Linked DNA regions of Homo sapiens. The protein of the gene in region 1 interacts with the protein of each later gene in a biochemical or structural test. Each region holds a gene or a part of one and is shown in the gene's direction. Other genes may lie near its edges.

Region 1 (10,588 bases):
GGAACACAGTGTTCTCTGTCTATTGGTAGAGGCACCAGAGATGGGCAGGATGGTGTTGCTGAGAGTGGAAAAGGCCTGTGCGTCAGAGCTGATGCTGTTAGAGGCTAACAAGCAGTGGGGATAGCACATCTTTTGCTAGCCAGGGATGTGTGGGGCTTACCTGATGAGAGACTGGGTGTCCTTGGGTGCCAGGCCAGTCAGATGGCCAGTCCCAAAACCTTCTGCCAGAGGTATGGCTTTGAATGCCACCCGGGAGAGTCTGAGTACCTACTCGGGGCCATTCCTGATGCTGGAGCTGCAGAAATGCATTAGTCACGGTCCCTGCCACAAGGTGCTCTTTGACTGGCTGCTGGGCCTGGGGGCAAAGGGGCTGTTGGATAGGGGATCTTCTTTGAAATGGATGGTGTCTAATCACTCACGCGCTCTCCTTCCCTGCTCACTAGATTAAGATCTGCTTTTACATCCTAGAAACCTAGATTAAGATCGGCTTCTGCTTCCACCTCTGTTTCAGCCCAGCTCTGCCAGACAGCCCTTCAACAGCTGGGCCTAACAGTGGTCTCTTTCTTCCTCCTTGCCGTCCCGTCTGAGACTTTGCCCTTGGAAAGTCCCATGCCGAGCTCGCTCCCCATCTTCCCGGGAGAACCCTCTAGGTGGTCAGCACTGACAGCTGTCTTCCTTCTTTCCTTTTTGACTCTTCCTCCTTTACTCTCTTCTTCTTTTCCTCCTCCTCTCCTTCCCCTGCAAAGCCACCCTCATCCAGGCCCTGGGCAGAGAAGGTATCAGGACACCCAGTCTTCAGCGAAAGTAGAGCCAGCTGGTTTTATTCCTGCAGTAAGTGTCCTCACCCCAGCCAGCACTTCCAGCTTCTGGTGCGGAAGGCTTCTTCCCTTTCTTCCCCTCCTTCTTTCTGCCCTTCCACGCCTCTGGGCTTCCTCCTTCCCTGAGCTTATCCTCCTTGGACCTTCTGATCCAGGGCTTCTCCCAACCTCCTTTCCTCATTCCCTTCCTGCCCTCTCTCCTTGCCTTCATTCCTCCCTTCCTTCCCTAGCTGATGGAAGGATGCCACCCCCTCCTCTGGAAAGAGCCCTTGAGAGCCTATGGTACGTGTGGTGTATTTGGAGGGCTGGCTGGCTGTCCCCCACCAGTAATGCCACTGCCCTCTCCTGGGCCCTGCGGCTCACCTCCCTGCACCCCATAAGTTTCTTTGTGCTCCTTCGCCATTCATCATGACTGCTGCCTTCCTTCTCCTACAGGAGTTCCCGCAAGCCTCCTCCAGCCTCTCTGGGGGGTGGGGGTTCTCCGCATGCTTTCATCACACCACTTTGTTTTCCTTCTCCTCTAACGCCTCCTTTCTCCTCCCCACTTCCCTCTCCTCTGCTTCCCCGCCTCCCACTGCCACCTCTTCCAGTAGCAGGCTTCCTTAGCCTTTGCCTCCTTTCCCTCCCCCTTCCCCTCCTTTGCTGCCTCTGTAACCTGTCTTACCACCAGGGCCTGAGTATACAAAAAAATAAATAAATAAATAAAAAGGTCAGTGAGTGGAGGGAGCAGCAATAACCCCTAAAACAGTACTATCAGTGGAACATGATTGATCAATTGAATTCCATAGCGGCTGAAAAATGTGGGATTAAGTAGTGTATTATACGCACAATGAGTTGAGGCATGATGTTCATTTCAAGTTCATTTCGCCGGCCTCTGCCACCAGATCAGGCAATCAATAGGGGCAGCAGATATCATATATCACCTCTCTGCGGGCCGGGGAGAGAGCACCATAATCTCTCGCAAATTTAGAGTGACAGATTTGTCAAGATCTGAAGGGCCCCTGAATAAATGAAGGCAAAGAGACTCCTCCAGCCAGTGACCTGAGGACAAAGCTTCAGTTCAGCCCCTACACACACACACACACACACACACAGACACAGTGAGCCAAGCCACACACAGACAGGCATATACACAAATCTACACAGAGGCATGAGGAGAGTCCTGCCACACATGCACACACATAATGTGTGAACACACGCTCACAAATACACCCTCTCTGCCCCTACAATAACCATATATGAAGATATTTGATGCTTTCCTCAGCCCTGAGAGTCCGGCTTCCCCAAAAGGTAGGAGGGCTCCAGGAAGGGAGAATCAAACACAATAGGACACGCAAATAGCTACAGGGAGTGAAATGAGGATGATGGCACATCCTGAAAAAAGAAGTAGGCACAGGAGAAACGGGGCATGTGGCCTCACAGTCCTCATGCAATCACACACAGACACACACATTCTTTCAGGAAGCTTCTCATTCTATTTCCACACACGCAGACCCTTGTTTATCTGGACGTTTATATATGTACAAGCGCGTAGACACGCAATACTCACACAAAAGGGAAAAATAAATTTACCACACTTCAACTTTCAACTCATATGTTGATGCATACATCCCGTAAGACTGAAATGATTCCAGAGCCTTATGCAGAAGAAACCACAACCACCAAGTTTTGTGTTCATGGGAACAAATACCATTGAAGCTGCTTCTGTCTGTCTTCTTCAGATGTGGTCCTGGTCTTGATCTCTGTCTCTCTCTCCCTCTCTTTCTCTCTCTCCTTCTCTCTCTCTCTCTCTCTCCTTCTCTCTCTCTCTCTCTCTCACATACACACACACACACACACACACACACACACACACACACACACACACACACACTTTCTTTGCTTTCCCACCCCCTCCAGAATAGATATGGAGGGAAGATGGGAGGTCACATTAGGAAAGCAAACCCCATGCTCGGTCTGGGAGGCCAGCAAGGGAGGATGGCTGCAGGTTGAGTTAATCAATATGTAATATTTTCTATGGTCTCCTGAATGATACTGTATGGTGTTACTGTATATAATGCAATATTGATTATATCATATCGTATAATCACCTATAAACTGATATATATAACATTCCCAGAGGAACACCCTGGGGCCTCCGGCATGGGCTGGCCCCAGGCCCAAGGCTCCTCAGCTGGTCTTGGGCTGAGGGAAGCCTGGAGTGACCAAGCTGGTATGGGGTTTGGGGGGGAAACCCCACTTTGGGGGGCTGCAAGGTGTGGGTTCAGAGAGAGGCCACAGAGCAGGCACATTGCCTACTGTACACCTTGAAAACTCCAAGGAACCGACGCTGGGAGGCAAGGATAGGGGAGGGCTGAGAACGCCTGAGGAAAGGGGACATGGAGACAGGATTGGCCTGTAGACTCAGGGGAGCAGGCACCGGTGTGATAAGACTCTGCTCCCTCTGGAGACTTGCAGGAGGAACCAGGTGACCAAGAAACTGGCTCCTGTAGGAGGCTTGAGCCTGGGTCTAGGTTGGAGACAGAGGCCGAGAAGGCGGCCAGGGCATAGAGGCATCCACAGGGGCCCTTCTGTGGGCTCTGCCCAAGCGGGAGCTTTGCTGCTCTAGCGACACCTCTTTCCTCCCGCTTGGTTTCCCTCTGGCCTCAGTCCTGGCCCAACCCAAGCAGAGTGCCTCAGCTCTGCCTCAGAGCCCCTCCTCCCTCAGGGCGAAGTTGATTACTTCACCCAGTCTCCAGGTTACACTCGGCCTCGGAAATTTGATGGTTTTCAACCCTTGGAATTAGTGGAACTGAAATTCATCTCGGAGCCGAGTTCAATTCTCCACAGGCTCAGTAATGCCAGTCTGAGACACCCAGCTTCTTTCTTCCCCAGGCTGGCCCTGGCTTGGGGGCAGGGGGTGGTTCAGGGAGACATGCCCCAGGGAGCTGGCTCCTGGGAGCCCCCTGGCTCCACCTCTGCCTAATCCTTCCTGACCCCACAGTGTGACCGCTCCATCTCTTACCAGGTCCTCAGGTCCTTCTCTTCCTTGGGCTTCCTCAGCCAGATCTCTGAGGCAGGGCCACCCTCTGGTGTCAGCCCCACTGGCCCAGGGGCTGAGAGTAAGGGGTCCCATAGGGGTGCAGAGCTCCTGGGCCCGGAACCAGATGCCCACCTCTTTGCCCTGCACTGTTCCTGTGCCTCTGCTGGCCTGGCGCTAACGCCCCGAGTGTCCATGTGTTCTCCAGATGTGTCTGAGGGCTCAGTCCCCAATGGAGATTCCCAGAGTGGTGTGGACAGTTTGCGGAAGCACTTGCGAGCTGACACCTTCACCCAGCAGCAGCTGGAAGCTTTGGATCGGGTCTTTGAGCGTCCTTCCTACCCTGACGTCTTCCAGGCATCAGAGCACATCAAATCAGAACAGGTGAGGAGGGAGCTTTCTGCTTGCAGAAGTAGAAAGGAGCCGGCAGAGCAAGGCCTCTCAAAAACTTGTTCACTAAACACCACATGCATAGCCAGCATTGTATGTGTTACACACGTGTGTTCTGTGTGTGTGCAGTGTGAACAGGCTCACATGAGACAGTATGGTATCGTTAAGACAAATCATTATGGTCTGTATATGGTAATTAGAAATGAGTTCTGGGTGCAAGAGTATGGCCTTGGGTAAATCATCTCTGTTCAGAGCCTCGGTTTCCCCATCTATAGAATGAAGGGCTTGGATGTAGGGTTTGTCAAGTCCCTTCTAGCTCCGCTTTTCTGTGGTTCTTGCATGGAGTACTCAGGAACATCCTCTTGCTGTGTCCCTTGCCCACACCCCCTCAGGGTCCTACAGAAAGTCTACGCTAGACTGGGGAGCTCTCCTTGCCCAGTGTCAGGAGAGCCTGCCTGTGCCTGCCTCCTGCTCCCCAAGCCAGCAATTCAATGGAACCCTAGGTAGGCTGGCAGCTTCCCACTTACACCCAACACTTTCTGCAGACACTGAGCAGCCCAGGACACATAGCATGGGGCACAGCATGTAACACACCAGCAAAACGCACAACGCAGAAACCATCTCCGAACTTTTCTATGTGCTGGTGTGCATGTGCTCACACTCCACCATCCACCTGCTCCCCTCACCCACAGCCCATGGTACTGTGCTCACACACCACTGTCCACCTGCTCCCCCACCCACAGCCCACGGTACTGTGCTCACACACCACCGCCCACCTGCTCCCTCACCCACAGCCCACGGTACTGTGCTCACACACCACCGCCCACCTGTTCCCTCACCCACAGCCCACGGTACTGTGCTCACACACCACTGTCCACCTGCTCCCCCGACCACAGCCCACGGTACTGTGCTCACACACCACCGCCCACCTGCTCCCTCACCCACAGCCCACGGTACTCACAGCTAGCCCCGGCAGCCGCATGGAGCCAGTGGGTGTGTGCTGCCCCCAGATCACCAGCTCAGCATACCCCTAGCATATGCCTCCACCCACATACGCTGGGTGGAGCCCCCAGCACACCCGCTCCCACACAGGGGCACACTCCCATCCCTGCTACACATGCAGCCCAGGCCAGGCCCACAGTCACAGCACAAGACAGCATTGCTGTGCTTGCATGCATGCACACACGCACCCACACATGCACGTCAGTGCAGCCCCACAGCGTTGAACGCTGTAGTTCCACTCTTAAGACTCCAACAGCTCCCAGCCACTCGCCTTTCTCCCCGCCCGTCCTTTTATCCCATAAGCTGTTTGTCTTCATAAAACAAAAATCAAAAGTCTTTTTAAGGTGCCCTGAGCCATAAACCAACAAAGGAGGAGCTGGCCGAGGCGGGCGGCTCAGTGCACCCTCCCTGAGTCCCCGCCTGTATTACAATGAATAACCTTTATTTACTTTCATTAGACTATTAAACACCAGCACAGTCATTTTTCCCCCTGAAACTCGGAGCAGGGCCCATAAAGCAAATCCGAAGCCTAATTGAGTTCATTTTAATTTCTCTCCGATCACAGCGAATTACTCTGGTGATAAATCAGGGGGCAGCTTCACCCCCAGTAGAAGGCCTAATTTGCAGCTAATTACAAAACTGATTTCTACAGGAAGATCAATACGAGAAGGAATTGGAAATGACGAGGCAATCCCGTCCAGCCATGGAGGGGAGGGGGTACTCTAGGGGGGCCAGGAAGCGGAAGGGAAAAAAACAGACCCGAAAGAGCAGGAAATCAGTTTTAATTTAACGTAATATTAATCAGAGCAACTTTTCCTGCTTTGTGCAGGCTCCCGGTCTGCCCAGCTCTGGGGTCTGGCTTGGCCGTGGCTGCAATAAAAAGGCAATTACCCGAGTGTTTCAGGCAGGACACCCTTTCAGAGTCAATGACTGGCCCCCTCCTACCCTTCTGTTAGCCATGTGGACTCTCCCCCTCCCCAATTTCATACCCCAGTGCACAGGCAGACAGCGAGGGGCCCATGGGGCTGTCATTGTTTGTTTTTAAAAAAGGGGCGCCCATACCCGATCAGCCAGCAGTGCCAGGCTGAAGGCCCCACTAGGCCCTTCTCCCAGCTACTGGCTCTGCCAGTCATGTCATGGTTCCCCCTCCTCCCCAAGGCTCCTCGACATCCCATGCCTCTCAACAAGGGTATCCCCACTACTACACCCTACCCGCAGGGGTGCTTAGGCAGGAGATGCTACAGAAACATAAAGGGTGCTGGCATTAAGTGCCCAAAATGTGTAAAGGGTGCTGTGCCTCCGGTTTCACCAAGTCAGGTCTACTACCCGCACAAAACTTGCCATCATCCACCAAGCCCCCGCATCTCCCCTCTGCCCCACCATCTCTTTCTACCCCATCTGGGCGGGCTCCCCTGTTCCTCCTCCCCATCTGCACACCGAGCCCTTTCTCTGTGCGTGCATCAATAGAGAGCTGTCACTTTTCTCTCTCCTCCCAGGGGAACGAGTACTCCCTCCCAGCCCTGACCCCTGGGCTTGATGAAGTCAAGTCGAGTCTATCTGCATCCACCAACCCTGAGCTGGGCAGCAACGTGTCAGGCACACAGACATACCCAGTTGTGACTGGTAAGGGGGCTTCCAGGAGGGTGGGGGCACTGCGTTCAGTGGAGGGTGCCTCAGCCCATGCCATCTGAGGCCCAGTGTGAGGAGCAGGTCCCCCACCGTGATATTTACAGAGAGAACGAGGCTTCTAAAACCAGGGTGCTTCCTGAACAGGGGTGTGCAGATGTGGGGAGAAAAAAACTGGGGTCAGGGCATCTGTGGGCTTCAACCTGGAAAGGCTGATGCTAGGAGGGGCTGTTGCCAGTTCTTCCTCCTGTCCTTCGCCTCTCCCTTTGTCTATTTCTCTTCCCTCTCCCAAGTTGCCCAGAATCATGAGCCTCTTGTTAGGATGTCTGCAGAAAGCAAATAAGCCAGGCTGGTGAGAGTGGAGCATGGGTACCCAGTGTCCAGCCTCCACACTTGGGTCTCCAAGGCTCCTGGGGGACCCGCTTACCGCTCCCTCCAGGCAGCATGGGTGATCATGGCTTTGGGCTTGAGGGCATGGCACCCAGCTCTGTGGAGTTTGAGATGAGTACAATTATTCCAGCCTTCCTCCTGCTTCCCAGAGAGGTCAGTGACACCAAGGCTTGATTTCAAGGCCAGGTAGGATCAGGCTTGGCCCACAATCAAATGCAGAGCTAGGGGCGCCATGGCCAGGAGCCCCTACAAATGAAGAGCAGCAGGGCCAGTTAGTTTGGAAGGGGAGGTGGAGTCCAGGGAAGGCCGCAGAGCTCCAGGCTGTGGAATGCACGTGCCACTGCAGAAGGGTTTCCAGGCCAGGAGACTGCCCAAATGGGAGAGACACGCATTGAGGTGTTATTAAAATTCACCTAATTATTCTGGAGACACTAAAGCCAATGTGCCGTTTGTTCCTTGGGAGACAGGATGATTGAGAAGGGTCTCGGTGGGGATTGGGAGACACTGAGGCGTTACCTGCAGAGCGAGGCAAGCGGAGGTGGCCTGCGGACCCAGCAGCAGGGCTGCAGAGCCAGCGGCAAAGGCAGGGAACAGGCACCGCCCACTCTAGGACTGGGCCCTGGTTCTGCCTGTGAGCTGGTCTGAGTGCGGCTGCATTTGAGCCTGAGCTGGGCTCAGTGGCCACCCAGCCTCCACCTGGGGGCTTAGGAGAGCCCTGTCAGTTTTCCCAGCCTCTCCCTAAGGGGCTGTACTGGTACAACTGTTTCCAGCCTAGATCTTTGGCTAGGGAGTCAGAGGTTGAATTCTAGAAGTGTTGGAGACCTGGACTGGGCTTTCGGGAGTGACGACCTTAGCTGGGTTAGCTGGGCCAGGACACAGCCCATGACCAAATGGCCCTCAGCATGAGCCATCCTTCGCCCAGCTGGGAAGCTCTCTGACCTGCTAGGTATTCTGACCCAAGGCAGAGAGACGGCCCAGGCCAGGCCACCTTTCTCCTGACCTGCTCAGAAGTACAGTGGTCACTTCCCAAAGATGGCCACTCCAGGCACTGTTCAAAGAGAACCCGGGAGACTTCTCTAACCCCATCTGCTGCCCAGCGCTCAGGCCATAGTCTAGAAGGCAAGGGCTTCCTAGGGTGGAGCTATGGATCTTCAGGGTAGGGCTCCTGCCACAGGAGACCCAGGGGCTGGTACAGAGAAGTGCCTCCACCTTGAGCAGCCCCCACCCGCCTCCCCCCCATGGCCCTGGAACAGTCCCAGCTCAGCCTGGGAACATCTCCGGCTGATCCATCTGGATCCAAGTGTGAGAAAAGTTCATTTCAGACCCAGCTTGACATTCCCAGGTGGCAAGTTAGCACTAACATCTCAATCTGTATGCGACATTTCAATCAAGCGAGGAGTAACAAAAGCAGAACCATTAACATTCGGAGCTGTTCACCAGTGGTAATGACGGGGAAACTCGCTCAGAAACTGGAAATTACCAAAAAGAGACAAGTGTGTGGAGAGGTGGGGGAGGGAAGATGGGGATAGGGGTAGGGAATGATTTTTCCACACTTAGGCCAAGATCCACTGTTTGGATTAATAGTGCCATTACCCAAGAAAGAGCTGCAGATTATGCTCATTCTTAAAATGTTTTTGCTGGCAATTAAACTGCTGCAGTTATTGATCTTTGTTGATTTTATGTCCTCCTAATTTGCATAATCTATTAAAGATGAATGATTTATGATGTGTTTATTATGGGGACAAACAGAATTTGCTAGAGGTACTGTCAAGGTGAGCCATGGGGCATTGCTCAGAGACTCCATATGCCATCTCAGCAGTGGGTCCAGCATGTTGGCCTTCAGGCCAGGATATTGTGGGTAGTAGTGAGCAGTGATGCAAGGAGAACAGAAACAGGAGAGTGGACTTTGGGTGAGTTCTTCTAGAAAGATACTGGCATCTGTGAGAACTGGGCTCCAGGCAGAGCTGGAGTGCGGGAGAGGCCCTTAGTGTATTTGTGGACACTGACCTCAAAGAGTCTTTAAAAGCTTATTTTCTTGGCAAATATTAAGGGCTTTGGTGGGAGAAGAGAAAAGGAGGCTCTTTTAGGTGGGTAGGTGATTCTGGGGAGGTGTGTGCTAAAGGTAAGGGAGCTGTTAGGTCACCCAGTGCCCATAGCCTGGCTTAGGAGTGCCGAGGTGTTCAAGGAGCCCTCTTTATCCTCCACGTCTCAGGCACCCTGCTCATCTTCTTCCCCAGGACTGACAGCTGCGGCTGCAAACCTTAGGGGATGAGGGAATGCCCTAGCCCAACCTGAAAAGCCAGACCTTATTGAGATTCCTGCCACCTCCTGGCCCTGGAGGCTGATTTCAAACTTCACCAGCCACTTGATGCAGCTATTCCACAAGGTCAGGACTGAGAGGAGAGAGGAACCTAGACTATTGTGTGGAGGGGAGAGTGGGGCCCAGTGGGCCAGGACACAGCTAATCACATTGCAAGCAAGGGTGGCTGCCGGAGGCTAGGGCTCAGCCCCATAGCCTCCCCTCCCCACCTTCCATCAGGGAACCGAGGAGAGAGACTGATTTTGCTGGGTAGTGTTTGCAAGTTCTGCCGAGATTTTAATTTCACTGCATCACAACTCAGCAAGCTGCCAAGTCAAGCTGGTTATTTAAATTTATCACCCACTTTCCCTTCCGCCGCTGGGCTGCTCTAGCTCAGCGGCATCTCTTCTCTCCAGCCCACGGCTCTAGGCTGCTGGTCTGGAACGGAGCCTCGTCTCTCCTAAGTGATAAAGAAAGAGGGACCAGCTACATGAGAGAATGGGTCACGGGCATTCTGGCCCCAGGCTTTTTCAGGTTGGCTGGCTGTGGCTGGTACCTCTCATCACCTTCTTGACCCTCCAAAGGAGCCCAGAGGGGCTGCCATCCACCTCTCAGTAGTCCCAGGGCCCTCCGGGTCAGGGCATCTGCAGTGAGGACTCGCTCCAACTGCATGCAGGAGGCTTCATTCCTTAAAGTCTCCCATCCCTGGAAGAAAAGATAGTCCCTGTTCTCCATAGCATTCTCACCTTGACCCCCCCTCCCCATGTCTGGCCGGGGCTCCAGTGACAAAGGAGCATGCAGAGACACTGGCAGTGATGTTGATCTGGGAGGAGAAGATGAGAACTTACTCCAGGATTCCCAAAGTCACTGGGGATGTTTCTGAGCATTAGAGAGTCCCTTGACACAGTGCAAGTCCACCCCGAAGGAGAGAGCCCAGATGCAAGGAACAGTGCTGGAGAAGTCAGAGACTGTGCAGTTCCATGCTCTCTAGAAAAGGGTTGGCCAATCTTTTGGCTTCCCTGGGCCACTTTGGAAGGAGAAGAA
Region 2 (10,588 bases), on another chromosome or scaffold:
GGTTTCATCCCCATGCAGCCTGCCGGCTGGAGAAGAGAGCTTTGGCCTTCCTGGCTTTTACTTCTGTTTGGTGACACAAGGAAGTTTCAAGCTAAATAATGAATTAAAGAGTAGGATTTTTGTTTCCCATTCCTTGTAGAGGATGAGATGAAAGTAAACAATTTCCAGTTGCCTTAGAGAGAATAGATTGTCTCCCCTAATATCCCCATTCCTACCCTATATTATTCTGTGCCAAGAGGGTAAGGGAGATGTGCCTGGAGCAGAGGAGCATTTGGAGCCAGAACGAGGCTGCCTGTTGGCCCGATCCCAGGCCACCGCTCCTGGTTTGTAGTCTGGAGGAGAAAAGGAAGGGGCGGGGGGGGGGGGGGGGCGCGGTTTACAGGAGAGAAGTGTGCGGCCTGGCTGTGAGGCAGACCCTGTCCTAGACCCAGCACTGGGGTGTGGGGCGAATCCATTCAGCCAGCATGAGGACACTGGAAAGAAACTGCGCAGAGCCGCCTTTCCTGAGCAGAGGAAAACAGGCCCAAGTCAGCCAAAAACCCGCTTTGTCCAAATTATCCGAGCTCCCTCGCAAAGTGCATTTTCCGGTTTCCATTCCTGGAGTTTCCAGACTTTTGGATGATTTTGTTCTGACTACAGAGCCCCTTCTCGTTGGCCCCCAACTGAGGGGAGGCCCCACCCTCCTCTAGGATAAGCAGCAGGGCCCCTTCCCTGGCTGCCCAGTGCTGCCGCTGCGTCATGTCTGCAGTTCCCTTCCCATCTCTGGCCGCTGTCTGGCCACTGTCTTCTTGTGGCCTTCCACGAAGCAGCAGTAATCTTGGGACAAGGTGGGAGAGCTCAGGGTTACGAAGCCGGCTTCTTTTGGTTCAGACCAAGGCTGAATTATAAAATTCCAACAATTGGGCAAACTAATTGGGGCCCTGTTTATGGCCTTTTTAATTTCCCATGTCCTTTCATACCCAGGCTGCAGATATGCTTTATTAAAATGGATACTGGAATATCTGGTCATTTCTGTGAAGTTTTGTAAGTTATTTGCTCTAATTGCCTGTAGTTACCCAGATCAACATGGGCCCAAGTGTCCAGGATCTGAAAGAATAAATCTGGGCCTTAAAGCCAGCAGGATGTGGACACATAGGATTTTTTTTTTTTTAAGATAAAGAAGGCTACTAAAAGTGGCCCTGTCTTAAAATATACAACTTCTTATGCTTCTAGATGTTTCACTATAGGTAGGTGCGGGCAGGTTGCAAAACCTATCTCAGTCTGGGAAGATTATTTTGTTTCCTTGAAGAATTTTTAACACTGTATATGTGAGTGAGGTGCTGTACATATTTTCCTATTTTTCTTCAAATAATCCATACAGGCTCAGTGGACAGGTCTGTTGTGTAGAGTTTTTGAAAACCATGCATTTCTTCTCATGGAGAAGCAGTCATTTTCCTTAACTGGTTTTTCTTTCTCTGCCGCGGTGCAGAGCCCTTTTCTGTCTTCTTATTTTTCTTCCTCTGCTGTTCTGTTTCCCTCCATCTTTGTCCTTCTTTCTTTTCAGTTGTGGGCCTAGCTTGGCACTCTCTCTCCAGGTTTGGCTTTTTTCTCTTTTTTCGTTCTCCTTCTCTCTATTTCTCTTTCTCCGTGGCCCTTTCAGTCTTTTTCTGTTGGGGGTACATTTCTCCTAGTGATGGCTGAAACTGGCATGGGTATGTATTTTAGAAATGTTTCAGTGAAAACTGTTGCTGGTTTTTTTTTTGTTTGTTTGTTTTTTTTTTTTTTTTACCAAATAGTACTCAACAATAAAAGACAGAGGCTTTTCTTCCATAATGGCAGCAAAATCCCTTTCCACAAACCAAAAACCCATATGAATTTTTAAAAAGTCTTATTTCTGGCTTCTCGATGATTTTTCTCTCCAATGGGGGAAATACCTTTCCCCCACAATGTTTCCTGCTTTTCCTTTTTTCCCCCCTTGTCTTTTTTTTTTCTCTTCCTATTACCAGCATCAGTGGCTTCCTTTCCCCATTTCCCATGTCCTTCTACTCTGTGGCCTGCATGTCCCCTTGCTCTTTCCATCACCTGAACTCTTACACTTGCCAGTGACTCAGACCTGGAGAAGCCTTGAATCGTATGAGGGATTTTTTGTCTTGATTCTGGTCTTTGGTGCAGGATGTAAAGCGGTCTGATCTCCTGCCTGGGGCTGGAGGGGAGAAGAGAAGGAGGCTGGGCTGGGAACAGGTAATCTTCCAACAGGAGCCTCCACTCTTTAACAAAAGGGGGACAGTTTCCTTTTGTCTAGGGCTCATGAGGGGCGTGTCTGGGCTGATGGCCGCCACCAGTGGCATGCAGGAGGAGGGGGCCCGCAGTGAAGGGTGCTTGAAATGTTTCTAATGGAACCCGAGCAATTCCTCTGTGTGCGCCCAAAATAGGAGGGGAGGAAGGGAGGGAGGGAGGAAAGAGAAATAGAGAAAGAGACCTTCTCATCTCCCGAAGCATCAGAATATCCTGGCCACTCCTCCAGAAAGGCCTCCTCCACTGGGAGCCAGCAGCCCATAGAGAGAATGGGGTGAGGGGAAAGTATTTGCCTGAGAATCTTCTGCCCACCTGCAAGGTTATAGCCACTGGCAGGAGAAGGACAATTGACAATTGTTCTTCCTCCAACTTTCTGCCCTGGGAAAGGCCTGTTGCTTCTTCTGTTAAGAGAGCCTTGAGGGGGTGCTTGGGGCTCTTTGTAGGTCCCTGAGGCTCTATTGAGACACTCTTCTGCCGCCTCTCCTCTGATCTCTCCGCCAGTCCGTGGAGTTTTGACCCCCAACCCCTCTCCAGGAGCCAGTCGTGCATCTTGTCCTGTTTCCCTAACTTCTACATGGATCCTTCCATCTGTCATTTCCCAGCTGTGGGACTGTTGCTGCCCCCACCTCTATCCCTGACCCAGTTGTACCACCAGATTCAGATTCAACCCATGTCGAGCATGTCTCTTCTACTGTGGCACTGTGGTCTGTGAAGTGGAACATGCCAGGATTCTCCAGGAGGCTCGTGTTGGCCATTTTCTGTTTGGTGTCTAATATTTAGTATAAATCAGAATACAAGAAAAACACCTCCATGCCAAATATAAACTCACTTGTAGTTTTTAATGACCTCATCTTGACTTTAGAAGGTAAAATTGTTTCCACAAGGTGGAGAGGCAGGATTTGGTACCTTATGTCATGTCTCTGAGCTAACATCTTTGGCTGATTGGACTGAAGCTGGTTATTAACATGATGTGAATTATTGGACACCACCCTAAGAGGCCTGTCTCTGATACCACCTGCCTTCTGTACTCTCACCTCTAACCGTTTCTTTCAGGGATCAGCCATGAGCTCAGTTCACTTGAGATGGATAATTCAGGGCACAGACTGGGGTCCCAGGTGTTGGGCAGCCCCTCTCCCATTGTCAGGGTTCAGCGCCAGCCCAGGGCTGGATGTTTTATTTTGGCATGCCCCAGGTGCTCTTCCGGGAACCTTTCTGCCAACATAAAGGCCACAAAGCACAGGGTTTCAGTTGGGGAAGAAAGGGGCACGAGTGAGCAGTGACCTTTTTTCCGTCGCCAGCTGAGGACTGAGCCTCGCTGAGGGAGAGGGCGGCTGTAGGGATGGGGTTCTGAGTGGAATTGGATCCCTTTCTCCCTGTCTGCAGCCACATCCTTCTTCCTCTGCTTTTCCTTTTATGTCATATCTATTTCCTTCTTACTGTGTTTCGAAGGCCTCAAGCATGGCTGCTCCATAGCTCTAACTGGAGAGACCCCCTCAGAAGTGGGACTCCCCTACCCAGTGCTCACCCTTTCTGCTTGCTGTGAGGAAGGTCCCCAAGTGGAGGACCAGAGCAGGGGCTCCCCGGTGGGTCACTTCTCTGTGACTTGATTTCCCCCAGGTGGCCTGTTTTTGATAGAGCCCTTTGCTGTTTTTTGTTGTGTCCTTTCTTAGCTCTTTTCTTTTCATTTGGGTTTCTCATTTTATACTTTTGCACTTTGCACTGCTAGGGTTTGGGCTCTTTAGTCTAAATTGATTTGGGAGACAGGTAAGAAAACTAATCTCAGGTCAACTGGAGAGGGCAGATCTGGAGAATTAAATGCCTGTGCAGTGGTGAGGGGCGTTGGTCAGATTCCTTGCCTCTGCTCAGAGGTAGTGTCCATCTTTTTGCCTTTGTCACTTCTCCCCGGGTCTGGCTGTTGTTTGTGGCTGCGTGTAGAGCTTGTCAGGCGGAGTGCTGTGACAGGAGGCTATTTTAATAAACTGTTGCAGTTTCTCGAGCCGAGCTGTGTTGCGTTGGCATCCCTCGTCACCGCTAATGGAGTGTGCGTGGCTGGGTGTGGGCCGAAGGAGGAGGCTGAGCTTGCTGGGGGCTGGGGGAGAAGGGAGGGACGTGTGGGGTGCTGGCCTCCCCCTTGTCTGAGAGTGCTCCTTCAGCAGCCAGACCTGGGGGCATCACAAGGTGGCAGTACCCTGGGCACCAGATCCCTGCCCTGGAAGTACTGCTGGCATGGACACTTTCTGAGCTCTCTTTCTTCTTATTTCTATTCATAGCACCGCAGGCCCGTGTGTATGTGGCCGGGGAGGAAAACTTCCACTCGCCCCTGTGTGCTCCATAGGAAGAAAAAAAAAAAGAAAGAAAGAAATAGAAACAGAAAAAGAGAGTGTGCAGGCCCGAGAGAAAGACTGAAACCAAAACACAGAGAGAAGGCGCAGCTGCTTCCCCAAGGCCTTCTGGGGCTCCCGCCCGCCAGCCCGCCGGGAGTCAGGCCTTTATTTATTTATTTTTCAGGCTTAAAAAAAAATTTCGAGTCTTCCACAATCCCAGTCCCCCCCAATGCCCCACCCCACCCCCAGATTTGCTGGGTGGCTGCTGCCAAATGGACCCGAGTGGGAGCCTGGAATGAAAAATTCATAACTGCTGGACTTTGCTTGTTCATTAGACGTGAACTTGTCGATTGGGCAAATTGTTTTTGGTCTCCAACTGCCGGGGGCTCTCCCCACCCTCCCTGCTCGCCCGGTTCCCTCCTCCCCTTGGACGCAGCCATTGGCTGCTCGTGGATGTCTCTTTGCCAAATAGGTGGATCCTTCTCTCTCTTTCTCTCTCTCTCTCTCTCTCTCTCTCTGTCTCTTTCTCCCCCCACCCCTTTTTACTGGCTTGGCACAAGCAAATGGATGGGGATTGAGCCTGAAAGGAGAGAGAGAGAGGGAGTTTGAGAGAGAGAAAAGGAGCAAAAAAAAAAAACACCCCAAAAACCCAACCAGTGCGCACACACACGCGCACACTCACACACACGCCCCATCCCATCCACGTCCTCCCTCGATCCTCGATCTCTCCCTCCCCCCCTTCTTCCTTTCCTCCCTCCCTCGCTCCCTCTCTCTCTTTTGCACGCGTCTGCCAGCAACGGTCTGCAGCCGGTCAGAACTCGTCCTCTTCCCCGGGAATCTGCGAGCTCCCCCTTTTCCTCCGATCAGGCAGCTCGAAGTTTACACCCCTGTGCCGCTGCCAAAGCCGAAAGCCTTTTTCTTCAGCTGCCGCTTTTTCCCTCCTGGGTTTTGTTTTTGTTTTTGTTTTGCACGGGGGTGGGGTGGGGTGCGTTGTTGGTTGTGGGGAGATGGTGGGAGGCTGGTTTTGATTTTTAAATTTTGCATTTTTTTCTTTTTTTTTTTTTTTAAACTGGAAGAGGATGCACAGGGGAAGAAATTGAAAAAAAAATTTTGTTGGCTTTTGTTTACCTGGCGTGTGTGGCAGCCGGCTCGCTCCCTCTCTCTGCTTGCTATCCCTGACCTTTCTTTCTTTTTGCTCCTTTTCAAAAAAAATATTAATTTCCCCCTTCTGTGCAATGGAGCATGGGGGGGGGGAGGAGGGGGAAGGGTTTGAGAATCCACCCAAGCCCGGCCCCTATTCCCCAGAACACCAATAATAACCCCCTTTAAAACATTTACCTTCCTCCCCTGCTCCTCCTCCTCCCCCCTCCCCCCACCCGCCCCCAACTCACAACTCTTTTGAGTCCAGAATCTCAGAATCGGGCGTTGGGCTTTGCCGGGTGCTTCAGATCAATGGTAATTATTTAATTTTTTCCAGTTTTATTTTTGTAAACAGAAATCAATTATTATTTAAACTTCAAACAAGCAAACAACCAAAAAAAAAAAAAAAAACCAAACAAAACCGAGAGAGCCCATCCTTCTGTCACCTGACTGAGTGGGAAAAAGGGTGAAGGGGTTGTGGGAGGCTGGGGAAGGGGTCGCAAGAAGACCCATGTAGCTTTTAACCCTAATGTGGCCGAGACAAGCACCTTATTTGTGCTAACAAGAAGTGTTTTGTTCATTATTACTGTGATTAACATTAGTATTGGTGTCGATAACAAAGCTGAAATCACATATTTAGGATTTAGGTCTGATTAAAAAATGTTGGGGTGGATGTTCCAACTGGATCAGGAGAAAAGAAAATGAAAACAGCCTGGGGAGAGGGAAGCCTGATCTGTTTCCTCACTCGCTTGCTCGTGGATGTCATTTTCTGTCTTCTTGGGGGCGGCCAAAAATCGACCGGTGTCGGGGACCAGAGGCGGCCCCGCACGCCCCCGCGTGTGCGTCCACGGGCGTCTGTGCAGACGGACACTGTGCCGGGGCGAGCTGACAGGAGTTCACGGCTGCGATAGAACATGGAGATGTCATGGGCGCGACAGAGCCTGGCGGGGATACCAGCAGCGTGTGTGTGTGGACGGCAACGTTGTCTGTGCGCGTGTGTGTGAGTGAGTGAGGGAGAGAGAGAGAGAATAGGTGTGTGTAGAGGCTCCCGGTGCCTCTGTCTGGCTGCTGAGGCTGAGATGGGAGCAAGTGGCTGGCGAAGCTGGTGGTGGCTTCAAACCACACTTTCGTAGAACAATCGCAAGAGAAAATTGTTGGGGGGAGGGAGGAGGAGGAGAAGGCGGTTTTCCTTGTGCCCCCCCTTCTAACGCTGCTTTTCTCCTTCTCTCTTTCCCCCTCATCCCGTCTTCCCCTCCTCCCGTCCTCCCTCGCCCCGCATGCTCCCGGCTTGCCGCCTGCAGGATGAGTTCCACCCGTTCATCGAGGCACTGCTGCCTCACGTCCGCGCTTTCTCCTACACCTGGTTCAACCTGCAGGCGCGGAAGCGCAAGTACTTCAAGAAGCATGAAAAGCGGATGTCGAAGGACGAGGAGCGGGCGGTGAAGGACGAGCTGCTGGGCGAGAAGCCCGAGATCAAGCAGAAGTGGGCATCCCGGCTGCTGGCCAAGCTGCGCAAGGACATCCGGCCCGAGTTCCGCGAGGACTTCGTGCTGACCATCACGGGCAAGAAGCCCCCCTGCTGCGTGCTCTCCAACCCCGACCAGAAGGGCAAGATCCGGCGGATTGACTGCCTGCGCCAGGCTGACAAGGTGTGGCGGCTGGACCTGGTCATGGTGATTTTGTTTAAGGGGATCCCCCTGGAAAGTACTGATGGGGAGCGGCTCTACAAGTCGCCTCAGTGCTCGAACCCCGGCCTGTGCGTCCAGCCACATCACATTGGAGTCACAATCAAAGAACTGGATCTTTATCTGGCTTACTTTGTCCACACTCCGGGTAGGTCGTTCTCAACCATTTTTCCCTCTCATTTTATTTTCCTTGCTGGCATTTGTTCTGTTTATTGTTCCTCTAATTTCCAAGCGATAACTCGCCATGGGCCTAACTGGTGTATGCCCGTCCTGCGGGGCCTGCAACACGGTTCTATGGGCCCTTTTCCTTTTTCCTGTCTTCTGTCTCCCCCGACCTGTTCTATTCTTCCTCCTCTGCCCCCTGGCCATGGTATCGACTTTGTGCATCTCCATCTTTGGAGGACTTATCTGATCAGAAAGATGCTGCAGGTCTTAGGATTGGGGACATGATGCCCCCAGAATTATCCATGATGGTGAGAGTTTGAGATGAACAACAACAGCAAACCAGTAATTGCTCTTATTAAAATGAGTCAGAAGAAGTATTGAGGGGCAGGTGCTAGTTTTACTGCAGCTTCACCTCCAGTCCCAGGAAAAACTGGGTTTGGTACAAGCGGGATGGGCAGGAGTCCGGTGGAGAGAAGGGGCATGTGAAACCCTGGGATATGAGACTGAATGAACAGAAAAGAGGAGAGAAGACAGTAGTGGGCAGATTCTGTGGCCTAAATACTCAGGCGGGAGCTGTTTTGGCTGGGATTTGGCTGTCAGTATGAAAGTAATTTGATTTCATAGAGAGTGAAAACAAGGACGAGATTCCTTGAGCTCTTTCCCTTCTCCTTATTTCAGCTAAAGTGGCAAGGCCTCAGGATGGATGCCCACAGCCCTGGCACTGGGGAGCAGAGAGGCTTTCTCGGGGCACAGGCATGGCAGGGAGCAGCGTTGCTGTGGAAGAGGTCTTAAACAAGCAAACAAACAAACCAAAAAAAAAAAAAACTCTGTAAAATCTCCTTTTCCTTTTGTGTTCCAAGTAGTTCTGCTTCTCTTCGCTTTTCCAGTTTTACCCTGCATTTTGGGTCAGGGTGGTTTAGTTCTCCTCCTCTGTTCCTTTTTTCCCTTACCCTTTCCCTTTTTATAATTTCTTTCCGCTTTTGTTTTCTTACAAATTGAAACAGAGATGGCTGGTTAATTTTTAGCCTCCACTCAGCTACGCCCAATTTACTGCCGCCTTTGAAACCTAAACGGGCGGCACTCTGTGATTAAGCAAGGCAGAAGTGTGTTTACATTATGCCCAACCAACTTGTAATGAGAGGGCTACCAAACCTTTCTCTCTCTCTCTCTCTCTCTGTGTGTGTGTGTGTGTGTGTGTGTTTCCTTTCCACCATTCCAGTATTTTTTCCCCTTCATTTTCCTTCTTCCTCTCTTTATGCGAATTTGAGAGAATGTGGCTTAACTTCAACTCTCGCAAAGGTTGTTTCTCCGCGAGTGTGTGTCTCTGTGTCTTTCTTCCTGTTCATTCACAAAAAAGAAAAGTGATTCACAATGGCTGTGGTCACCCCCTTGCCTGTTTGGGAAGTTGGGAGGAATGATATAACTGGATCCAGAAATAAAATTCGGGTTTGGGGGTGCTTTCAGCACTGCGTCAGGAATGTAATCTAGACTAGAGTGAGCCCTGAGTTTACATGTTGGAGAACTGTGGAGAGGAGAAGGTGGTATTGGAATTCTTGTCCTGAGAGGTTGCTTTGGTAACTGGTTAGAAGCAGGGGACACCACTCTCACCCCCCAAGTCTCTACCTACTTCTGTGGATCTTTCTAGGCCTGCATCCGGCCCTGTGTGACCATCGTGACCCGTCATGCAGAAGGGCCAGGTGCCAGTCATTCCCCCTCCCTTCAGCTTGAATTTTTTCTTTTGTCTTTTTTCTTTTTGGAAAACAGACTGAGAGGGAAAAAAAAGTTATCCCCTCATTCTCTGTCTATACAGCAAGCCAGATTTGGGAGGGTGTGTGCCTGGTAGTATTGGAGGTGACTGGTGGCTTGCAGAAGGCTCGGAGCCTCGAGCTTACCAGTGTGGCCATCAGATACTCCTGCACAAGGGGATTCTGCACCTTCCAATTTTAGAACCAGGGGCTCGAGAGCATCTAAGATGAAAATCAACACTCATCTTCCTCTGAGCTGGCTTCCTCCAACCCCGCTCTCTGACTGGATCCTTGTAGCTGAGTTGTTTCCCTGGCCTCTTTTATTTTAGGCCGAATTCTTGACTGCTGCCAGTGTGGGGCTAAGGTAGGATGAAAAGTATGTGAGGAAGCAGACCGTTTCCTGGCCAGAAGAAAGGCCCCACCATGCCTCCCTGCCAGCTTAAGAGATCATTCGCCCAGGAATATGAGTGAATTCATACCCCATTCCATGTAGCCGAGGCCACTTCTCTGGGCTGGGGCTGAGGCCGAGTCTCCTCTACAAAAGCAGAGTAGGGAACTAAGGGTGTATTTTATATCATTCAGGCCCCAGACTCCAGATAATTTCAGTGAAGGTAGGATTTTTCTCACTGGAATTGCTTTAGTTTGAGTGTGCCTTCCTGAAGTGAGTTGAGGCGAGTTGGCGCAGCCCGGGCCACCAGTGGGCTGCATCACTTGTTCCTCTTTGGAGTTGGGTTGGGTGGTCTTGAGATGGCACAGACCAGGCATGGCTTGCTTCCTCCTTGAGCTGGCAAGAAATAAAAACATTTCTTGCTTTGCTAGAAAATGTCTTCTGTGGCTGAGCCACCAAAGAGCATCGATCTGTGGGCACCACTTTCTCCATGCCCATGCCTGCCAGGCACACTCAGCAGAGCTGCCACTTGCTCCTTCCTTCCAGGATGATAAACTGGGGACAGGGGCCGGGATGGCACAGGCTCAGACAAGAGCTGCTTTGGACTCTGAAATAAGTGTTTTTCCTTTTCTTAAGACAGGGCTGAAGAGCCAGATCTGGGCTGAGCTGGGGGTCCTGGGTTTCATGACAGTAACGGTGATGTGGTGGTAAATGTGGGGGTGTGGCTTTGCTCCCAGGTGCCATTGTCACCCATGGCCTTCCTGAGCCCTTGTTATGTCCCAGATGAAGCTTCAAGAGATGACATGTTCGAGAGGGAATAAAGGACGTGTGTTTGGCGTTGAAACTCCACTCCCAGAATACTGGGTC
Region 3 (11,130 bases), on another chromosome or scaffold:
ATCACAACAGGGTCACCACTGGGGGCAGCACACTCAAATTACAATCATCTAAGAAGGTTTATCAAGGAACTACTTACAAAGGTGTAGGCAGGATGCATGGAGAGTGAAGGGACCTGTGGGGAGAAGCAGGTGAGCCCTCACCACCCTAGGTCCAAGGGATGAGAGGAAGGAAAGATTCCCAGGACCTGGAAGGAGAGAGTTGTATAGAATGGGCTCCTCTGCCAGCTCAAGGCAACCTGATGAGGAACCTGGGAAATAAACACCGTCATACCTCTCTCCTCCCTCCCCTCACTGCCCAGCTTTCTGCTGGGACTCCCCATTGACCAAATTCAACTAGAAGCCAATGTGCAAGGGATTCTACTTATATAATCTGCTCAGGTCAGCACCCAGGGGCGGAGAAAAAGGTGGAGCAGGATGGAGTACAGATCTGACATGGGGAGTGGGACAAATGGAAGGCATCTAACACATCCCTCACATGCCTCAGAGAACTACCTTGTGTTTGCTTTTTAAAAATAATGCTGTTTCTTTGTTGTTTGTTTTTGAGATAGACTCTCACTTTGTGGCCCAGACTGGCATGATCTCAGCTCACTGCAACCTCTGCCTCCCAGGTTCAAGCGATCCTTGTGGCTCAGTCTCCTGGGTAGCTGGGATTCCAGGCGTGCACCACCATGCCTGGCTAATTTTTTTGTATTTTCAGTAGAGATGGGGTTTTACCATTTGGCCAGGCGGGAAAAAGAATACGCTTAATCCTCTATGTATAAAGCCAGTAACCTCAAATTCAACAAATATCTATTGAGTAGCTAACGGGTATTTTTTTTGAAATTATCTTTGAGAATTTTGTTTTATATTACACTAATCTTAATTCATATAAGAATTTTTTTGAAAACCAAAAATGGCAAAAATTGGCAAGATACCATCAATGCCATTTTCTTTTCTTGGACGTGTAAGAAGACCACATCACCCAGCAGTCTCCTTTACAGCTTACGGAGGTGTCAGGAGACCAGGTTCTGGCCAGTGGAAATGGCTGGAGGTATGTGTGCCACTCTTGCTAGCTCAGCCATAGAAACTGCAGCAGGATACTCTACATGCTTTGTCCCCATCTGTACAGCTAACAAAGCCACATGACAGAAGCCAAGTCCCATTTGGAAGAAAGCTGTCCGAAGGAAGCCACCAAGGCGTTATGTGCAAGAAACTTTCTTTTTCGTTTTTTTTTGAGACAGAGTCTAGATCTGTCACCCAGGATGGAGTGCAGTGGTGCAATCTTGACTCAATGCAACCTCCACCTCACCGGTTCAAGCCATTCTCGTGCCTCAGCCTCCCGAGTAGCTGGGATTACAGGTGCGCACCACCATGCTCAACTAGTTTTTGTATTTTTAGTAAGAGATGAGGTTTCACCATGTTAGCCAGGCTGGTCTCGAACTCCTGACCTAAGTGATCCACCTGCCTCGGGCACCCAAAGTGTTGGGATTACAGGCATGAGCCACTGTGCCCGGTGGAAACTTTCAAAGTCTTATCCCACTGAAATGTAGTTACAACATGATCTTAATCCGGGTTTCTCAACAGTGGCACTATTGACATTTTGCACGGGTCCTTTGTCATGGAGGACGGTCCCATGCGTTGCGTGATGTTTAGCAGCTTCCTATCCTCCACCACTAGATGCCAGTAGCATCCCCTACCCCCTAGTTGTGACAACCAAAAATGTCTCCAGACGTTGTCAAATGTGCCATAGGGGGCTAAATTGCCCATGGTTGAGAATCGCTGATCCTGTTACCGCACTGTTCTCAGAGTGACGGGAGACAGGTATGGGACGTCGTTTCTAACCTTAAAGGATGGAACATTATAATACGTTATACATGTATTTTAAGATGATTGCTTCATTGGAGTACTGTAATTGTTAAATTGGAAACAACAAATGTGCAACAATACAGAATATTGTACATTCAAACAAGGGAGTATTATGTATTCATTAAATGATATAGATATTTATTGACATGGAAAAACAGTCTTGATTTTTTTGAAGTGGCAGAGTATGGGGTATAATTTTTTTTAGGGAAATATATTTATACGGGACAATGTCTAGAAGGATTTCCATAGTGGTTGCTTCTGGGCATAGAATTTGAGGTAATTTACAATTTCTCTTCACTTGTGATTTCTAGTTTTCCGACACTGAATAGCTACATGACACTGGTGGCAGCTGTGCCCCGCAGGTCCACTGACGGGATCTTTCCTGCAGAGAAGCAGTGCTCCTTTGAGTTCGCAGTTTCTCCTTCAACTAAACTATGGCCTGTTTGTGCCTGCAACTGGAGTATTCTGACCCTTTCATGAGAAGGTTAAATGTTGTCTATAAACCCAAACTGAAGGTTTACTAAACATTAAAAATATCTAATTTTAAGGGATGTATGGATAGCTGAACAGGAGAGATGAAGACTGAGACTGTTGTATACAATATAGAAATACATTTAAAAAAAGCCATTTGGAAATAATCTAAGTAACTGCCTCGAGTTTCCACCAGTAAGGGCAATTTGAGTTAAATATCCCCAAATCTACTTTTTTTTTTCTAATTTTTTATTTTTCCTAGGCTTAGGTTATCTAATTTTGCCAAATAGAAAATGAGAAACATATTTACTGAACTAGCACTGGCAGTAAGCAGGCTGTTTAATTCTCCAAAGGCTGATTATCAACAAAATGATCATGCTTTTAATTTACCTGGGGGAAGTCTAAAAATATTAATGCTCAGTGTCATATTTGGAAGTGGTATATGCTTCAAATTAAACAAATGCATAGCTTCTGTTTAATAAACTGATAGCTATCACCCTAAAATGGGTCATCCTTAAAGTGTCACAAAACCAGTGATAAGAATTTTATTTAACTGTGAATAAGATACAGCACTGTCAACATGATATTTTGTTCCTATAACTTTGCATATGGCCATTTTGGGGAAGATAATTTCTGAGTTTACCGCTTGCCTTTAAATATTGACTTGCCATCTTTACGTCCTCTGCTAGATGGGTTACTCTTCATGATGTCAGGATGCTAGTTTTTTAGACTGCCTCAGAGCATCCTTTATCCACATGAAATTAACCTAATGTAAACATTTTTATTTTTCATTACTGGCCAAGCAGTAGTATTGGAGACTCAGTGAGTGAGTGTGACACTGCCTCCAGGCCTTCCTGATGCTGTTGCCGTAAGATCCACTTGTGTGGACCGCCTTGCACAGTTCACGTGTGATATTTTACAAATACTGACTAGGTGATGGGGTTTTAAATAGCAGATTTATTTATTTATTTAGAGTCTCACTCTGCCACCTAAGCTGGAGTGCAGTGGTGTGATCTCTGCTCTCTGCAACCTCTGCTTCCCGGGTTCAAGTGATTCTCCTGCCTCAGCTTCCCAAGAAGGTAGGATTACAGGTGCACGCCACCATGCCCAGCTAATTTTTGTTTTTAGTAGAGACTGGCTTTCACCATGTTGGCCAGGCTGGTGTTGAACTCCTGACCTCCAGTGATCTGCCTGCCTTGGCCTCCCAAAGTGCTGGGATTATAGGGGTGAGCCACCACGCTGGCCTTAAATAGCAGGTTTCTTAATCCCGCAATTTGCCTTACCATCAGAACCTGAAGTAGGGTAAGCTTGTTCTCTTGAACGTTACAAATTGCTTTCTTAATTCACAAAATAAAATACCTGGTTGAGGTCCACTTCAGGTCTTTTAACATAAAATCACATGCTTAGTTTGTGTTTAACCAAGAAAATCAAAGGGAGGGCCGGGTGTGATGGCTCACGCCTTTAACCCCAGCACTTTGGGAGGCCGAGGCAGAAGGATCACAAGGTCAGGAGTTCAAGACCAGCCTGGCCAACATAGTGAAAACCTGTCTCTACTAAAAATACCAAAATTAGCCAGGTGTGGTGGCACGCACCTGTAGTCCCAGCTACTTGGGAGGCTGAGGTGGGAGAATCGCTTGAACCCAGGGGGTGGAAGTTGTAGTGAGCTGAGACCACGCCATTGCACTCCAGCCTGGGTGAGAGTGGGACTCCGTTTCAAAAAAAAGAAAGAAAAAGAAAAGGATAAATAAGTTCTCTCACACAGGTCGATAAAAAGGCAGCATGATCTGTATTTGGATCTAATGTATTTATTACACTGATATATGCCCAACATAGAACATTAAACATCAGAATGATAAACATATACCAGAATATATCAAATATATTCTTAGGTATTAAAAGGTTTCCTGATTACAAAGGGTGTCATAAAAATTTAAGGATGGATGACAAATTCTTGGTTTTTCCTTCAGGCAAGCACTGAGTGTTTTTATTACAGGTTGAGTAACCTTTATCTGAAATGCTTGGGACAAAAGTATTTCAGATATTTTTGATTTGGAATATTTGCATATACATAATAAGATATCTTGGGGATGGGACCCAAGTCTAAATGGGAAATTCATTTGTTTCACATACACCTTACCTTACCCACATAGCCTGAAGGTAAGGTTATATTATATATTTTAAATAATTTTGTGCATGAAACAAAGTTTTGATGGCGTTTTAAAAAAAAATGTTTTCATTGTTTTTTTTGTTTTGGTTTTTGTTTTTTTACAGACAGGGTCTGGCTATATCGTCCAGGCTGGACTCAAACTCCTGGGCTCAAGCAATCCTCCTGCTCAACCTCCCGAGTAGCTGGCACTACAGGTGCCCACCACACCAGGCTTGATTGTGACTTGACTGTCACCCAGTGTCACATGAGGGCAAGTGTGGAATTTTCCATTTGTGGGGTCACGTCAGTACTCAAAAAAATTCGAATTTTAGAGCATTTTGGATTTCAGATTAGGAATGTTTAACCTAAGTTTGTAAAGGAAATTTTTTAGCCTTAGAATAGGGATGTTTCAGATTGTTCAAGAGACAAATGAAAGACTAAAACAACCAGAAAACATTGGAATGATAAATCATTAAGTATATTTAAATGTGCGTTGTTTACCTCCTGCCCATACAAAACCACTCATGACATACATACAAATGTAAGGACAAAACTGTAGTCACCTGATTAACAAGAGCCAGAGTTCATTGCATGCTGATCAACGAACCAACACAACTTTTATCATACACTAAAAAAAGGGTAGAACAAAGGCCAACTTAAAGCCTGGAAAGTGATCTAATCTGTTAAATTAGTGTACCGCAGAGTAATTTTGAAAGCCTTCTCGTTTTGTTTTGTTTTTTTTCAGAGACAGAGTCTCGCTCTGTCGCCCAGGCTGGAGTGCAGCGGCGCGATCTCGGCTCATTGCAACCTCCCCCACCCGAGTTCAAGCCATTCTCCTGCCTCAGCCTCCTGAGTAGCTGGGACTACAGGCGCGTGCCGCCACGCCCGGCTAATTTTTTGTATTTTAGTAGGGACGGGGTTTCACCGTGTCGCCCAGGCTGGTCTCGAACTCCTGAACTCAGGCAATCCGCCCACCTCGGCCTCCTAAAGGATAGGATTACAGGCGTGAGCCACCGCGCCCGGCCCCTTCTCTTTTTTAAAACCAATTTCACTAACATTTACTTAAAAATGATTTTCTGCTTGGCAGAAGTGACTTAAGGCATGTGGGGGAGACACTGCGGGTCTGTCTCAGATTCCTTTAGACACCAATGCTCCACAGTTTTACGACTAGGTAATAGTCCGATAATCACCCATGAGTTCCTGGACTCCGGTTTGTTGTGGGATTGGAAATAAACGAGAAAGGCTGCGTTCATCATCATGGCCTTAATTTCTTCTCCCAACTTCCGGTCGTGCAGGTGTCTTGGGCAGGTGATCCCGAGGCCACTCTGCCGTGTTCTGTGAATCTTGGCGGAAGGGAGGCGAGCTGTAAATAAAAGCGTGACCATTAGAATCGCCGCTGTGTAGTATTAACCTGTTGAGCGCGGGGCTTCCCGGGGCTGGAGCTGCACCGCGGGCTCTGCTGTCTGGGACTCTCCTCCAGCGCGGACCCGACAGGACGCCAGGGACCAGGCCGGTCCGGCCGGGACAGCGGGGCCTCGGGCAGCGACGGGGCCGGGCCTCCCCCCAGCACGTCCCCAGCTCGGGCACTGAGGCCTTGCGGAGACCCCAGGACTCGCCGCGGAGGCCACCAGTGCGCGTCTCGCGTGGCGCTACGGCCTCGGGAATTCCGTCACGGCATAGCCGGGTCCAGCGCGGTGTAGACCGGGGCCCCGCGCCTTGCTCGGCCAGAGCGGCTCAGGTACTACTCCAGGTCCGGCCGCACTCGCGGCCACTGCGAACAGCCGGGACACCCAATCCCACTCCGCCCAGGGCCAAGAAGCCCGAGGAGGCCGCAGAACCGCTCCCGCTCCCACTCGCGGCCCCAAGGCCCCACCCCCCCCTCCGCCGCGCGCATGCGCCGCCCCCGAGCAGCCGCATGTGGCGACGGGAGGGGCCTGCCAGCTCCCCTCCTCCCCGGGACCGGCTCACTCCGGCCCCGCCGAGGGGGGAGCTGGTTTCCCCTCGTCCTCGGGGCCCCCTCGTTGCAGAGCGGCGGCCACGGAACCGCAAGGGCCAGAGCGGGCTGCCGGCGCCAGCTACCCCGGAGCCGTGGCTGGCGGCAGAGGCGCGGGGCGTCACTGGAGGCCGGGCGGCTCCTCGGCGCTCCCCCTCGGTGGCCGGGGCGGGATGGTGCGTCCCGCAGGGCGCGCGCGGCTCCCGCGCTTCGGGCGCTCGGCGCGGGCGCGGGCGGGGGCGCGGAGGGCGGGGGAGCGGACCCCGATTCGCAGGACCGGGCCCGGGCTGCGCGGGCAGGGCCGTTGGCGGGGCGAGTGGGGGCGCCGGGCGCCGCGGGGGCCGGGGGCGGGGGGTGGGCGGGGCCGGGCGCCGCCGCGGAGCCTCCCGGGCCGCCGCGATCATGTCGGACCAGGCGCCCAAAGTTCCTGAGGAGATGTTCAGGGAGGTCAAGTATTACGCGGTGGGCGACATCGACCCGCAGGTACCGCGCCCGCCCCTGCCGCGGCCTCCTCCCCCGTCCGCGTCCCCGTCCGTCCCCGTCCCCGTCCCCGTCCCCGCTCCTGCCGCGGGCGCGCGCCGGGCGCAGAGCGTCGGGTCCGCCGAGGCCGCTGGCCTGACTGCGCTGAGGGCAGGGGCGACCGCGGGGTGGGCGCGGGAGGCCCGGGCCCGGGGGAGTGCGGGAGGGAAGGCGGCTGGGGCTCTGTACCTCGGCCCCTAGTGCGCGCCCTGAGCCCCCGGCCTGCGGCCCTGGGGTCGCCGCCCCCGACCCACCGGGCCGCCTCGTTCTCTGCTCCTTTGCTGAGCGGGACGGGCGCGGGGTCGCGTCTCCCCATTCCCCGCGCCGGGCGTCTCGGCTCCCGGGAGAGCAGCTCCGAGGGCGGACGAGGGGCGCCGGGATCCCCAGCCGGGGCAGCTCGCGCGGGGACCCCAGCCTCGCTCGGCCGGCGGGGGTCGTGGCCGTGCACCGGCTTGGCCGCCTCCGCCACCCGGGCAGCTGCCGTCCTGTGCGGGGCTGAGGAGCGCTCCCTTCCAGCCTGTGTCCCTGCACGTGGGGGCTGGCATTCGTCTTCCTTGATTTTCCCACTTGGACGATTAATTTTACGGTACCCTGGTAACACCATCACATTACACATTTAATTTTGTGTAGTTTGGGCTCACGCCAAAGGATATTGTGGGTTTTCCTTAGTATTCCTATAATAATATATCTGTTTGATGTCACACAGTTATCAGTCCGTGGTAGGAATGCATCTTAGTTGAATATCCTCTTCAGGTTAATCTTCAAAATATTTCCTTCTTAAAAGTTTAGCTGTACAGTTGTGTTGCCTTGGGTGTGACATCAGTGGCCCCCACCTTGGAGGATGGGGATCCCCAGTGATCAGAGTTAGGCCTGGAAGGGCGGAGACTCATATTTCGCAGATGAACTTGGATGGTGTAGAAGGAATTGTAGAAGGCTGAGTGATCTTGGCCTTCTTGAGGTTCGTCCTTGTAACAACTTTTTGGACCCTTTTTGCCCTGTAACTTTAGGGTAAAGAGACTTCAAGGCCGGGTTTACCCCTGTAATCCCAGCACTTTGGGAGGCCAAGGCGGGTGGATCACCTGAGGTCATGAGTTCGAGACCAGCCTGGCCAACATGGTGAAGCCTCATCTCTACTAAAAATACAAAAATTAGCCGGGCGTGGTGGCGGGCGCCTGTGGTCTCAGCTACTCGGGAGGCTGAGGCAGGAGAATTGCTGGAACCTGGGAGGTGGAAGTTGCAGTGAGCCGAGATCGCGCCACTGCACTCCAGCCTGGGCAACAACAGCTAGACTCCGTCTCAAAAAAAAAAAAAAAGCCTTCTATCTTTGAATTTACAGAGTAAAACAGTTGCTGAACACGGAGCGATGAAGATGAGTGCCTGTAACAGTGTTAGCTTTTTCCAGTATTGATGATTCCCCCGCCCCTCTTTTTTTTGTTTGTTTTTTTGTTTTTGTTTTTTGCTATCCACCATTTTTCTCTTCCCCCTCCTTCCTAGCCTTCGTGTTTCATTTTAGGACTTTGGCTCTTATAGGGGACTTGAACCAAATGTTACTTAAAACCTGGAACAAGTTGAACTGGAACCATATTTACTCGACTTTGAATCAAATCTAAGTGCTTAAAAATGTCCTTGGCAAACCACTTTCATCTGAAACAGTATATTTTCTGAAAAGTTTTGAGCCTGGACATCTGATTCTCTGACTCTTATGACTGTGGATTATAAGTTCACATGTTGACCATCTAATATGAGGCAGGCATGGACTAGGTGCCAGGTATAATACAGAGGTGAAGAGGACATGGTACCTGCCCTTTAGCGCCCCTCATTGGTGGGGGAGGGAGCACACCTGGACATATCACAGTACAAGGTGTAGCAGATTTCTCCACTGGGGTGCAAAGTAGACACCACTGAAATGTCACTCAGTAGATGTCATTTCAGTTGGGTTTTGAGATAAGCAGAAGTTAAGAACATGAAGGAATATTTTCATGTGGAGCGTATGTGCTGAGGAATGAAGGCATTCATGCGTTTGGGATACATCAGGATGATCACTATATCTGGAACAGAGTGATATGAGATAAATCTATTAAGATACTCAGTAGTGTGGAGATTGAAGAGAAGCTATTGGTTTTGGCATCCTCAAAGTTCGTGAAAACCGAGTAAAGTGTTTTTGGTAGAGTGTTGGTGGAAGGGGCTGGATTGCAGGGAGTTGAAGAGTGAATGGAAACTGAGAACAGAAAGGTTAGACTCTTCAGGAAGTTTGTCCTGAGAAGGAAATAGAGAAGGTGCCTGAGGAAGAGAGGGCTGGGGAGGGATCTGTGTTGCATCACAAGCGCGTGGAAGGATGTGGGTGACTTTACTGTTTACAGGTGGAGGGAACATAGCTATGGACAGGGAAACTCATGAAGAAGGGAGTAGGATCAGAAACAGACTGGAGGATAGGAAAAGGAGGGGTGCCTTTTCTGAAGACCAGTCGAATGGATGCGTGAAGCTAAAAATGCTTAGAGGTCAAGGGAAGGAAGAAAGGTAAAGTGGCCCATGGCCAGTGACCGCTGTTTTTTCACTTACTAAATATTGAGCCTCTGCTCTAGTTCATATCTATTAGTGGTCGGTAAAGTATTCTGAAAAGGTTGTCTAGCTTGTGGGTGACTTTATTTTTTTTTGAGGTTGGAGCAAAAGTTTAATAAGTGAAAGAAGAAAGCTCTCTGCTGCAGAGAGGGGACCTGGAAGAGCGTTGCCCTGGTGGGTCACTTGAGCTTTGTGGGCACCATGTCACTTTGACAGTTGGTGTGCACTGTCAGCTTAGACACTGCCCACCTCTTCTGAAGCACTTGACTGTCGACTGTTCCTTAACCCTCACTTCCTTGGCTTCTGTTGACGCTCCTCTCCTGTGATACTGCACTTCCCTACCTGTCCCTGAAGTATCAGTTGCTGTGTCTGCTCTCTAGCTCCCCTCCCATTCTGCACTGCGACCACCTTCACGCTCATGGCTGTGGCTCCCATCTATGTAACAATGCTGATGACTTTCTGTCAGGGAGATCCACATCTTTTCCTAGCTGCAACTGGATGCCTCTTGCCAGATATTAACACGACCCCCAAAGAATGGCATGCCCAAACTAAAACACGTCCTTGTGTCCCCACCTGCCAGCCTTCTGATGTGTTCCTCAGTGAGTGGTACTCACCACCATTTCAGTCTGGACTTTGCTCTTTTGCTTATACCCCTTCCAGACACCAAGGCTTGCCGATTCTCTCACATCTTCCTCCTTTCTGCCCATCAGGACATCACTTTAGTGGATGCCTCTTTCACCTGGGTTATTGCACTTGTTTCTTAACAGGTCTCTTGTCTTTAGTCATCTAGCCAACCAAACACAGCCAGCCCACCCAATCCTTTCTTTTCACATGGACTGTCATCTTTGTATGAAATCTGTGCTACTTTTCCTGTGTGAAATCCTTCAGTGGCCCTGCATATACCCCAGAATGAAGCACAGACTTTTTTGCATAGTGTGTAAGAAAGCCCATTTACGGTCTGCTCTGTATTCACCTGTTCAGTGCCTTCAACACTGCTCCCTCTTCCTCGATGTATGGATTTTTGCCTAACACCCAGACGTTTATGAGGGTTCTGCTCACATATCTTGTCTTCCAGAATCTTTCCCTAATTATGAAACTCCCCATGTCCCAGTCTTTAAGTTGGAAGCTCAGGAGCACCATGTGCGTGGCCCCACCGCAGCAGTGGTTGTGCTGTCTCCTGGTTTGTCCAGCCCATCTGTCTTGAGGACAGACCATGTCCACTACTGGACTCACAATAGCCTCCATTACTTGGTCATTGACTTGGTCAGTGAATCAAGATTTGCTGCTTTTGATTGTCCCCGAAAGTTTCATTGGCATATTATTCAGAGTAAAAGGCTGTTAGTTTTTATGTGGGGAATATGGTGTGTTTTTATTAAAAAGTACTATTATGCCCAATAATTATTTCTGTAATTCAAGAGTACAGTACAGTATTGCCCATTTTAATTTGTGTGGATTTTCTTGTTTTTTAGGTTATTCAGCTTCTCAAGGCTGGAAAAGCGAAGGAAGTTTCCTACAATGCACTAGCCTCACACATAATCTCAGAGGATGGGGACAATCCAGAGGTGGGAGAAGCTCGGGAAGTCTTTGACTTACCTGT

What was found.
Region 2: the proteins of PAX2 (region 1) and NFIX form a complex in vitro, tested with the Homo sapiens proteins (one study listed by BioGRID).
Region 3: the proteins of PAX2 (region 1) and PAXIP1 form a complex in vitro, tested with the Homo sapiens proteins (one study listed by BioGRID).

What each region holds. Positions count from the first base shown.
Region 1 is NC_000010.11:100,802,385-100,812,972, forward strand, and holds part of PAX2 (paired box protein Pax-2), read left to right. Parts: intron 1-4,045; coding exon 4,046-4,221; intron 4,222-6,725; coding exon 6,726-6,852; intron 6,853-10,588. UniProt on the Homo sapiens protein: Transcription factor that may have a role in kidney cell differentiation. Has a critical role in the development of the urogenital tract, the eyes, and the CNS.
Region 2 is NC_000019.10:13,017,982-13,028,569, forward strand, and holds part of NFIX (nuclear factor 1 X-type), read left to right. Parts: intron 1-5,990; exon of another isoform or gene 5,991-6,050; coding exon of another isoform or gene 6,051-6,053; intron 6,054-6,597; exon of another isoform or gene 6,598-6,652; coding exon of another isoform or gene 6,653-6,738; intron 6,739-6,797; exon of another isoform or gene 6,798-7,015; coding exon of another isoform or gene 7,016-7,039; coding exon 7,040-7,571; intron 7,572-10,588.
Region 3 is NC_000007.14:154,998,657-155,009,786, reverse strand, and holds the start of PAXIP1 (PAX-interacting protein 1), read left to right. Parts: upstream 1-6,662; 5' UTR 6,663-6,857; coding exon 6,858-6,938; intron 6,939-8,247; exon of another isoform or gene 8,248-9,707; intron 9,708-11,002; coding exon 11,003-11,130.